2 separate regions of the Homo sapiens genome follow, and region 2 is linked to region 1. The links come from fine-mapping of genetic effects on gene expression. A gene starts in region 1. The other region holds a variant in brackets. All regions are shown on one strand. Distances are from middle to middle.

Evidence for each region. PIP is the estimated chance that this variant, and not a neighbour inherited with it, causes the effect.
Region 2: its variant is fine-mapped to the expression of SPON1 in whole blood (TOPMed, PIP above 0.99). The same link has a PIP of 0.9 or more in blood mononuclear cells.

The regions. Positions count from the first base shown.
Region 1 is chr11:13,960,818-13,965,195 of GRCh38, forward strand. SPON1 (spondin 1) reads left to right here and starts at 1,906. Exons shown (of 16, transcript NM_006108.4): 1 at 1,906-2,325. The coding sequence starts at 2,088. LOC124902637 (a long non-coding RNA gene) reads left to right here and starts at 2,340. Exons shown (of 2, transcript XR_007062602.1): 1 at 2,340-4,228.
Region 2 is chr11:13,935,615-13,939,992 of GRCh38, forward strand. No RefSeq gene overlaps it. Among named protein-coding and RNA genes, the nearest start is that of LINC02683, 13 kb to the left of the region's middle. RefSeq lists an enhancer at 2,974-3,475. The variant C/G (reference allele first, on the strand shown) is at 1,969.

The sequences.
Region 1 (4,378 bases):
CATATAATTATGTATTTAATATTTGCCTTTGCCACAGGCCTGTAAAATCCTCAAAGGCAAGTAACATATCTGTGTTTTGTATCCAAGCACTGAGCACGTGGAGGGTCTTTGTCATGAATGAATGGATGGATAGAAGGATGCATGGATGGATGGATGGATGAATTTTTGTTCCGTCTTCTACCTACCGGTCAGCACAGAGTCTAGCTCCAAATCTACACTTAATGAAAGTTTGCTGGATGAATGGGACCGTGCAACTTGGAGTGCAGCATGAGCTCTGAGCCAGTCGAGTGAAGATGCAGACAATTCCCTCAGCACTCAGACATGGATCTGAGCCTCACCTCAAAAAGGAGGGCCGATCAGCTGGATCAGGTGCTGCTAGGGTCAAGAAGGGCTAGGGATGAGAGAAGAGCATAATTGGCTTCAGCAAGGGGTTACTTTCAGGTGACCTCTGAGAGAAGGCGTCCAGTTAATAGTGGCAGTGGGAATTCCAGCACAAGCACTAAGGAGTAAGTGGGCAGGCAGGGAGGAATGGAGATCTCCCATGCACCTAGCGCCCTGGGCCTGTTTGTAGCATTATGAAAGAGAAAACCCTGACCTGGAAAGCAAAGGAGATTGCTTGCTAATTGTAGGCACTTGAGGTGTGTCGAAGGCCCTGGGCAAAGAGAAGACGAGGAAACCAAAGCTTCTGAGGGCACCTGGGGAGGGATGTTTGTGTGCACTGAGAGGCAGGGGGCTTATGGTATCCCCAAGCGGGTGAGGGAGCAGGCGCCACTAGAGACCAACTAGAGTGTTTTATATGGGTCATATCATTTACTTCTAGCATATCACCCCACTACCTCTAAGAAGGATGTACTGGCACCCACCCCCACTTCCTTGTTCTCCAGAGCAGGAAACAAGCTTGGAGAGTGCGATAACTAGCCCAAGCTTCACAATGGGTGAGTGGCAGGACTGAGGTTTGATTCGGGTCTCTTCCCAGAGAGACACTGGGAGAGATTCTTGCCCCAGGTCTTTTCCCTTCAGGCCCTCAGGCTCAGCACCTCTCTGAACATCTGTCCCTGGGGAGTGAGAATCTGAACTAAAATGTAAGCCAAGAAAACACAGGCTCTTCATTGAATCTTTGGAAACTCCTTTCCTGGGCTGTAGGAGGACCTTCCTGAGCCTTAGGCACTTTTGCCTTTGCTGGCTCTTTCCTCCAAGTCAAGCATATTTTATGACTGTGGAGGTATAAATACAAATATATTAACATTATATAGTAAAACATTTTGTTTGACATAAATTTTTTCTTCTGATTTTTACAGAAAACATTTTCATAGATCTCCAAAAGTATCGTGGGCCCTAAGCGCTGTAGCTAAGTCGTTTCTCCTTTCTCAGCCTCCAGTCTGACATGTTCCACTATGGCCTTGGGAAGAGCAATGGGCCCGGAGTCGCCGCATCTAACCCTGCTGTAACTGGTCGCAAGTCACAGTTTGCTCATCTATAAAGTGAGCGAAAGTAATGTAATCTTTATTGGGAGTAGGGAACATGAAGGCGAGTCGATACAGTAAGTAAGCCGCCAAGCATATTGCTAGGCACAGAGCAGGTGTGCAACAAAAGTTATTTCTCAGGCTTTCCCTCCTCTGAGCGCCGTCCTCCAGAGGGTCCGGAGTGTAGCTGGGGGTTGGAGCAGCAGCCTCCTAGGCGATGGGACAGAGCCCACAGGGTCCGGTATGCCACGGTTTCTTCGTCAGACCCTGGGAATCCAACGTCGCAAAATAAACACGGCCGCGCCGCTAATCGCCAGTTCGGAGGAAACAAAACAGCGCTGCGCTGGGGGATCTGGGCAAAATCAGCCCTCCCTCCTCCCGCTCCTTCGCCGCGGCCCTCCCCTCCTCGCGCTGCTCTCGTTCGCTTGGCTCAGCTCAGCTCAGCTCAGCGCAGCTCCGCGGCCGCCAAGCCGAGGCGGGCACGGTCTCCGAGTCGCGGACGCCAGCTCCGAGCTCCCTCTCTCCGCCGCGCCTCCGCCAGGTCGCGCCTTCGTCGGGACCACTTCGGGCAGGAGTCGCGTGGCGAAGGCCTGCGGCCGCGGCACAAAGTTGGGGGCCGCGAAGATGAGGCTGTCCCCGGCGCCCCTGAAGCTGAGCCGGACTCCGGCACTGCTGGCCCTGGCGCTGCCCCTGGCCGCGGCGCTGGCCTTCTCCGACGAGACCCTGGACAAAGTGCCCAAGTCAGAGGGCTACTGCAGCCGTATCCTGCGCGCCCAGGGCACGCGGCGCGAGGGCTACACCGAGTTCAGCCTCCGCGTGGAGGGCGACCCCGACTTCTACAAGCCGGGAACCAGCTACCGCGGTAAGTGGCCGCCCGGCGTGGCATTAGGAGAGCGGGACCCGGTCCCCGGAGGGCGCCGACCTCGCGGTGCCGGAGGAGGGCGCGCGGTCTCCGGGCGCGTGGCGCGGGTGCAGCCCGGCAAGGGCCCTTCTGTCCTGGCTGCCCTCGGCCCTTGCAGTCGCGAGCTCGGCGCGGATCATAATCCAGCGTCCCGGGCCGTCGCGGGGGCCGCAGCCAGGAGAGGCACCCCGCGTTTCCGACGCGCGGTTCCCAGGCGGAGGATGTAACTGAGCCACACGTCACGCCGGCCTGACTGCAAGGGAGGCTCGCTTCTCCCCCGGCCGTCTGCAGGAGGGAAGTAAAACTGCCTTTCTCCAAATCGGTCTGGAGGGGACCCAGGCTTCTCTTGGTCGGGTCCCGGGCAAGGCAGCCACTCCAGCTTTCCCCGCTCAGTCCCTGAAGGAGAGGGTACCCGATTCTCAAAGACTGGCCCTGGGCGGGACAGCCACTCCGGCTTCCCTGGATAGGTCCCTTCAGGAGAAGGGACTTTGGCTTCTCCCTAACCGGTCCCGGGGTGCGGGAAGGAGGGGCAGGGACAGCCTAAAGCTCCTCGAAAGGGTCCTTGGAAAGAACCCCAAATTATTCTCTCGTGGTCCCAGACGAGATAGAGTATCTTGGGTTTCCAGAACAGGTTCCCAGTGGGGACAGGGTCCTCAAAGAGCTTGGGGTAAGCTCCGAGCTGCAAGGGGAATTGGATGAAGATGGAAAGAGAAGCCCCGATGCCCGAGGCCTGCTCCCTGGAGGCCGGGGAACCTTGGCTCCGGCAGCTCGGAGTCTCCACGTCCCAGGGATGTCGCGCCTACGCCGCTCGGCTGAGAGTGGGGTTTCGGGAGCTCAGGGAGGAGGTGTCCAAGCAGGTGAGAGCCTCCTAGGCGGGACAGGCAGTTCGACCAGCACCGATCTGAAGACGCCTGACTCTGTCCCCACGCCCGCCACCTCGCTCCTCAGCAGGGTCATCTCCCCAGACATCGTTTCCCCGTGCAGCAGCAGCCGCTCTCCGGGTGGGGGACAGGTAACCAGGAAGGGAAGCGAGCCTGTCTGGCCTCACCTTAGCTCCCGCCAGGGAGCGTGTCCTCTCACCCTCGCCCCTTCATAAGTCAGCTCTGGTGCTAAGCAGGGATGAGCGGGTCACTGGGGCACCTGGTGGGGCAAATGGGCTCCCAGCTGCTGTACTTTCCTCCTCGCCTTCCCAGTTCCCCAGAGAGCCTTGGACGGAAGCGGTGGGAGCAACACAGGAGAAAGTCTGGGGCAGCGTCAGCGGGCGCCAGGGTCACGCCGGAGACCAAAGCCAGGGGCCACCCTTCTTGGAGCGCTTTTCCCCCTTTCCCGGGTTTGTGTCCCCGACTTTCTCCACCCGGAGCTACCCAAAGCCGGCTCCTTGGTGCCCTTGGCACCTTGGCGTGCTGAGCACTTTGCGAGGAACAGTCTGACCCCGGCGCGCAGCTCCGCGGGATCCTGGGTACTCCACGAAGAAAGATTCTGGGCGGAGAACACCCCGCCCAGCCCGGGAGGGAGCGCGCGGCTTGGCACCGCGGCTAGAGCGAGCCGCGCCGACGGGCGGCGACTGCCACTCGGTGCAGCCGGGAGGCGGCCGATCCTCCCTGTGGACCGCAGGGAAGCGGGTATGACTTCAGTGGCCTATTCGGCCCTCCCCAAAACTGAGGACCTGAGTTCACAGGGGAAACTGTCCCCGCTCCACGTAGCAGAGAAAGAAGTGGCTCTGGAGTCCAACAGACTTGGGTTTACTCGCTGTGTGACCTTGTGCAAGTCATTTAATTTCTCTGCACCTATTTCCTAGCTGGAAAAAAAAAAAAGCTGTTTATCCACCCTCTCTTGGTGGTAGGGAGTAAATGAGTTTACAAAGGTGAGTGTGCCTGAGCTAAAAGAGATTCCTAATAAGCCTAACAGTTGAATGTGAGGCCTTTATTGGTTTACTAATGGAGGTAGGTTCTTGATCAGATTTTTGTTTTTGAAGAGTGTTGTGCGTTTGAAAGCAGGTTTCCTCAGCTCTCCT
Region 2 (4,378 bases), 25 kb before region 1:
GTACCAGCTCCTCCTTGTATGTCTGGTGGAATTTGGCTGTGAATCCCTCTGGTCCTGGACTTTTTTTGGTTGGTAGACTATTAATTATTGCCTCAATTTCAGATCCTGTTATTGGTCTATTCAGGGATTCAACTTCCTTCTGGTTTAGTCTTGGGAGGGTGTATGTGTCCAGGAATTTATCCATTTCTTCTAGATTTTCTAGTTTATTTGCATAGAGGTGTTTATATTATTCTCTGATGGCAGTTTGTATTTCTGTGGGATTGGTGGTGATATCCCCTTTATCATTTTTTATTGCATCTATTTGATTCTTCTCTCTTTTCTTCTTTATTAGTCTTGCTAGCAGTCTATCAATTTTGTTGATCTTTTCAAAAAACCAGCTCCTGGATTCATTGGTTTTTTGAAGGGTTTTTTGTGTCTCTGTCTCCTTCAGTTCTGCTCTGATCTTTGTTATTTCTTGCCTTCTGCTAGCTTTTGAATGTGTTTGCTCTTACTTCTCTAGTTCTTTTAATTGTGATGTTAGGGTGTCAATTTTAGATCTTTCCTGCTTTCTCTTGTGGGCATTTAGTGCTATAAATTTCCCTCTACACACTGCTTTGAATTTGTCCCAGAGATTCTGGTATGTTGTATATTTGTTCTCATTAGTTTCTTTGTTTTTTTTTTTTTTTTTTTTTTTTTTCTGAGGCAAAGTCTTGCTCTGTTGCCCAGGATGGAGTGCAGTGGCGCCATCTCGGCTCACTGCAAGCTCCGCCTCCCGGGTTCCCGCCATTCTCCTGCCTCAGCCTCCCGAGTAGCTGGGACTATAGGCGCCCGCCATCACGCCCGGCTCATTTTTTGTATTTTTAGTAGAGATAGGGTTTCACCGTGTTAGCCAGGATGGTCTCGATCTTCTGACCTCGTGATCCACCCACCTTGGCCTCCCAAAGTACTGGGATTACAGGCATGAGCCACCACGCCCAGCAGTTCTCATTAGTTTCAAAGAACACCTTTATTTCTGCCTTCATTTTGTTAGGTACCCAGTAGTCATTCAGGAGCAGGTTGTTCAGTTTCCATGTAGTTGAGTGGTTTTGAGTGAGTTTCTTAATCCTGAGTTCTAGTTTGATTGCACTATGGTCTGAGAGACAGTTTGTTATAATTTCTATTCTTCTACATTTGCTGAGGAGTGCTTTACTTCCAACTATGGTCAATTTTGAAACAAGTGCAATGTGGTGCTGAGAAGAATGTATATTCTGTTGATTTGGGGTGGAGAGTTCTGTAGATGTCTATTAGGTCCGCTTAGTGCAGAGCTGAGTTCAATTCCTGGATATCCTTGTTAACTTTCTGTCTCGTTGATCTGTCTAATGTTGACAGTGGGCTGTTAAAGTCTCCCATTATTATTGTGTGGGAGTCTAAGTCTCTTTGTGGGTCTCTAAGGACTTGCTTTATGAATCTGGGTCCTCCTGTATTGGGTGCATATATCTTTAGGATAGTTAGCTCTTCTGGTTGAATTGATCCCTTTACCATTATGTAATGGCCTTCTTTGTCTCTTTTGATCTTTGTTGGTTTAAAGTCTGTTTTATCAGAGACTAGGGTTGCAACCCCTGCCTTTTTTTGTTTTCCATTTGCTTGGTAGATCTTCCTCCATCCCTTTATTTTGAGCCTATGTGTGTCTCTGCATGTGAGACGGGTCTCCTGAATACAGCACACTGATGGGTCTTGACTCTTTATCCAATTTGCCTGTCTGTGTCTTTTAATTGGAGCATTTAGCCCATTTACATTTAATGTTAATATTGTTATATATGAATTTGATCCTGTCATTATGATGTTGGCTGGTTATTTTCCTCGTTAGTTGATGCGGTTTCTTCCTAGCCTCAATGGTCTTTACAATTTGGCATGTTTTTGCAGTGGCTGGTACGGGTTGTTCCTTTCCTTGTTTAGTGCTTCCTTCAGGAGCTCTTTTATGGCAGGCCTGGTGGTGACAAAATCTCTCAG[C/G]ATTTGCTTGTCTGTAAAGGATTTTATTTCTCCTTCACTTATGAAGCTTAGTTTGGCCAGATAGGAAATTCTGGGTTGAAAATTATTTTCTTTAAGAATTTTGAATATTGGCCCCCACTCTCTTCTGGCTTGTAGAGTTTCTGCTGAGAGATCTGCTGTTAGTCTGATGGGCTTCCCTTTGTGGGTAACCCGACCTTTCTCTCTGGTTGCCCTTAACATTTTTTCCTTCATTTCATCTTTGGTGAATCTGACAATTACGTGTCTTGGAGTTGCTCTTCTCGAGGAGTATCTTTGTGGCGTTCTCTGTATTTCCTGAATGTGAATGTTGGCCTGCCTTGCTAGATTGGGGAAGTTCTCCTGGATAATATCCTGCAGAGTGTTTTCCAACTTGGTTCCATTCTCCCCGTCACTTTCAGGTACACCAATCAGACGTAGATTTGGTCTTTTCACATAGTCCCATATTTCTTGGAGGCTTTGTTCATTTCTTTTTACTCTTTTTTCTCTAAACTTCTCTTCTTGCTTCATTTCATTCATTTGATCTTCCATCATTGATACCCTTTCTTCCAGTTGATTGAATCGGCTACTGAAGCTTGTGCATTCGTCACGTAGTTCTCATGCCATGATTTTCAGCTCTATCAGGTCATTTAAGGACTTCTCTACACTGGTTATTCTAGTTAGCCATTTGTCTAATCTTTTTTCAAGGTTTTTGGCTTCTTTGCGTTGGGTTCTAACTTCCTCCTTCAGCTTGGAGAAGTTTGATCATCTGAAGCCTTCTTCTCTCAACTCGTCAAAGTCATTCTCCATCCAGCTTTGTTCTGTTGCTGGTGAGGAGCTGTGTTTCTTTGGAGGGGGAGAGGCACTCTGATTTTTATAATTTTCAGATTTTCTGGTCTGTTTTTTCCCATCTTTGTGGTTTTATCTATCTTTGGTCTTTGATGATGGTGACGTACAGACGGGGTTTTGGTGTGGATGTCCTTTCTGTTTTGTTAGTTTTCCTAACTGTTAGGACCCTCAGCTGCAGGTCTGTTGGAGTTTGCTGGAGGTCCACTCCAGACCCTGTTTGCCTGGGTATCAGCAGCAGAGGCTGCAGAACACCGAATATTGCTGAACAGCAAATGTTGCTGTCTGATCCTTCCTCTGGAATCTTCATCTCAGAGGGGTGCCGAGCCATGTGAGGTGTCAGTCTGCCCCTACTGGGGCATGCCTTCCAGTTAGGCTACTCGGGGGTCAGGGACCCACTTGAGAAGGCAGTCTGTCCGTTGTCAGATCTCAAACTCCGTGCTGGGAGAACCACTAGTCTCTTCAAAGCTGGCAGACAGGGACATTTATGTCTGCAGAGGTTTCTGCTGCCTTTTTTTCAGCTATGCCCTGCCCCCAGAGGTGGAGTCTACAGAGGCAGGCAGGCCTCCTTGAGCTGCGGTGGGCTCCACCCAGTTCGAGCTTCCCTGCCGCTTTGTTTACCTACTCAAGCCTCAGCAATCGTGGGCGCCCCTCCCCCAGCCTTGCTACCGCCTTGCAGTTGGATTTCAGACTGCTGTTCTAGCAATGAGCAAGGCTCCGTGGGCATGGGACCCTCCATGCCAGGCACGGAATATAATCTCCTGGTGTTCCATTTGCTAAGACCATTGGAAAAGTGGTATTAGGGTGGGAGTGACCTGATTTTCCAGGTGCTGTCTGTCACAGTTTCCCTTGGCTAGGAAAGGGAATTCCCTGACCCCTTGTGCTTCCCGGGTGAGGTGATGTCTCGCCCTGCTTCAGCTCACACTCGGTGAGCTGCACCCACTGTCCTGCACCCACTGTCTGACAAGGCCCTGTGAGATGAACCCAGTACCTCAGTTGGAAATGCAGAAATCACCTGTCTTCTGCATCACTCATGCTGGGAGCTGTAGACTGGAGCTGTTCCTATTCGGCCATCTTGGAACCGCCCCCTCTCATTTTCATAATAAGGTTATAGATTCACCTGAAAGGGAATGCAAAAGGAAAGGGGAACACAAATCTGGAAAACTAGCATTTAACTTCACTAATGAGCAATTAAATGCAAATTAAAATCGAAATGGTATTAATTTAGGCAACAATTTTTACATGAGCAAACCCGAGTCCACAGGGAAGGGGGTTCTTTTTCCTGTGACAAGGTAAGTTGGTGCAGCCCTTTTGGCAGGGAACTTGCACTGTGTAATAACAGCTGCAAAAGGCAATTCCATTTAACAGTCATTTAATTCATTTAACACACAGCCATAGAGCTGCTTGAGAATTTTTCATAACGCCATGATGGAAATTACCTTCTTCTCATGGGAATTCCATTTAAGAAGGGGTCACATGGTACTATTTACTATTCTCCCAACTACCTGTCAATCTGGTATCTCTCCCATGGGGCTCACTGGGAGAAGCCAGCTTCTGCTACAGGGTCACA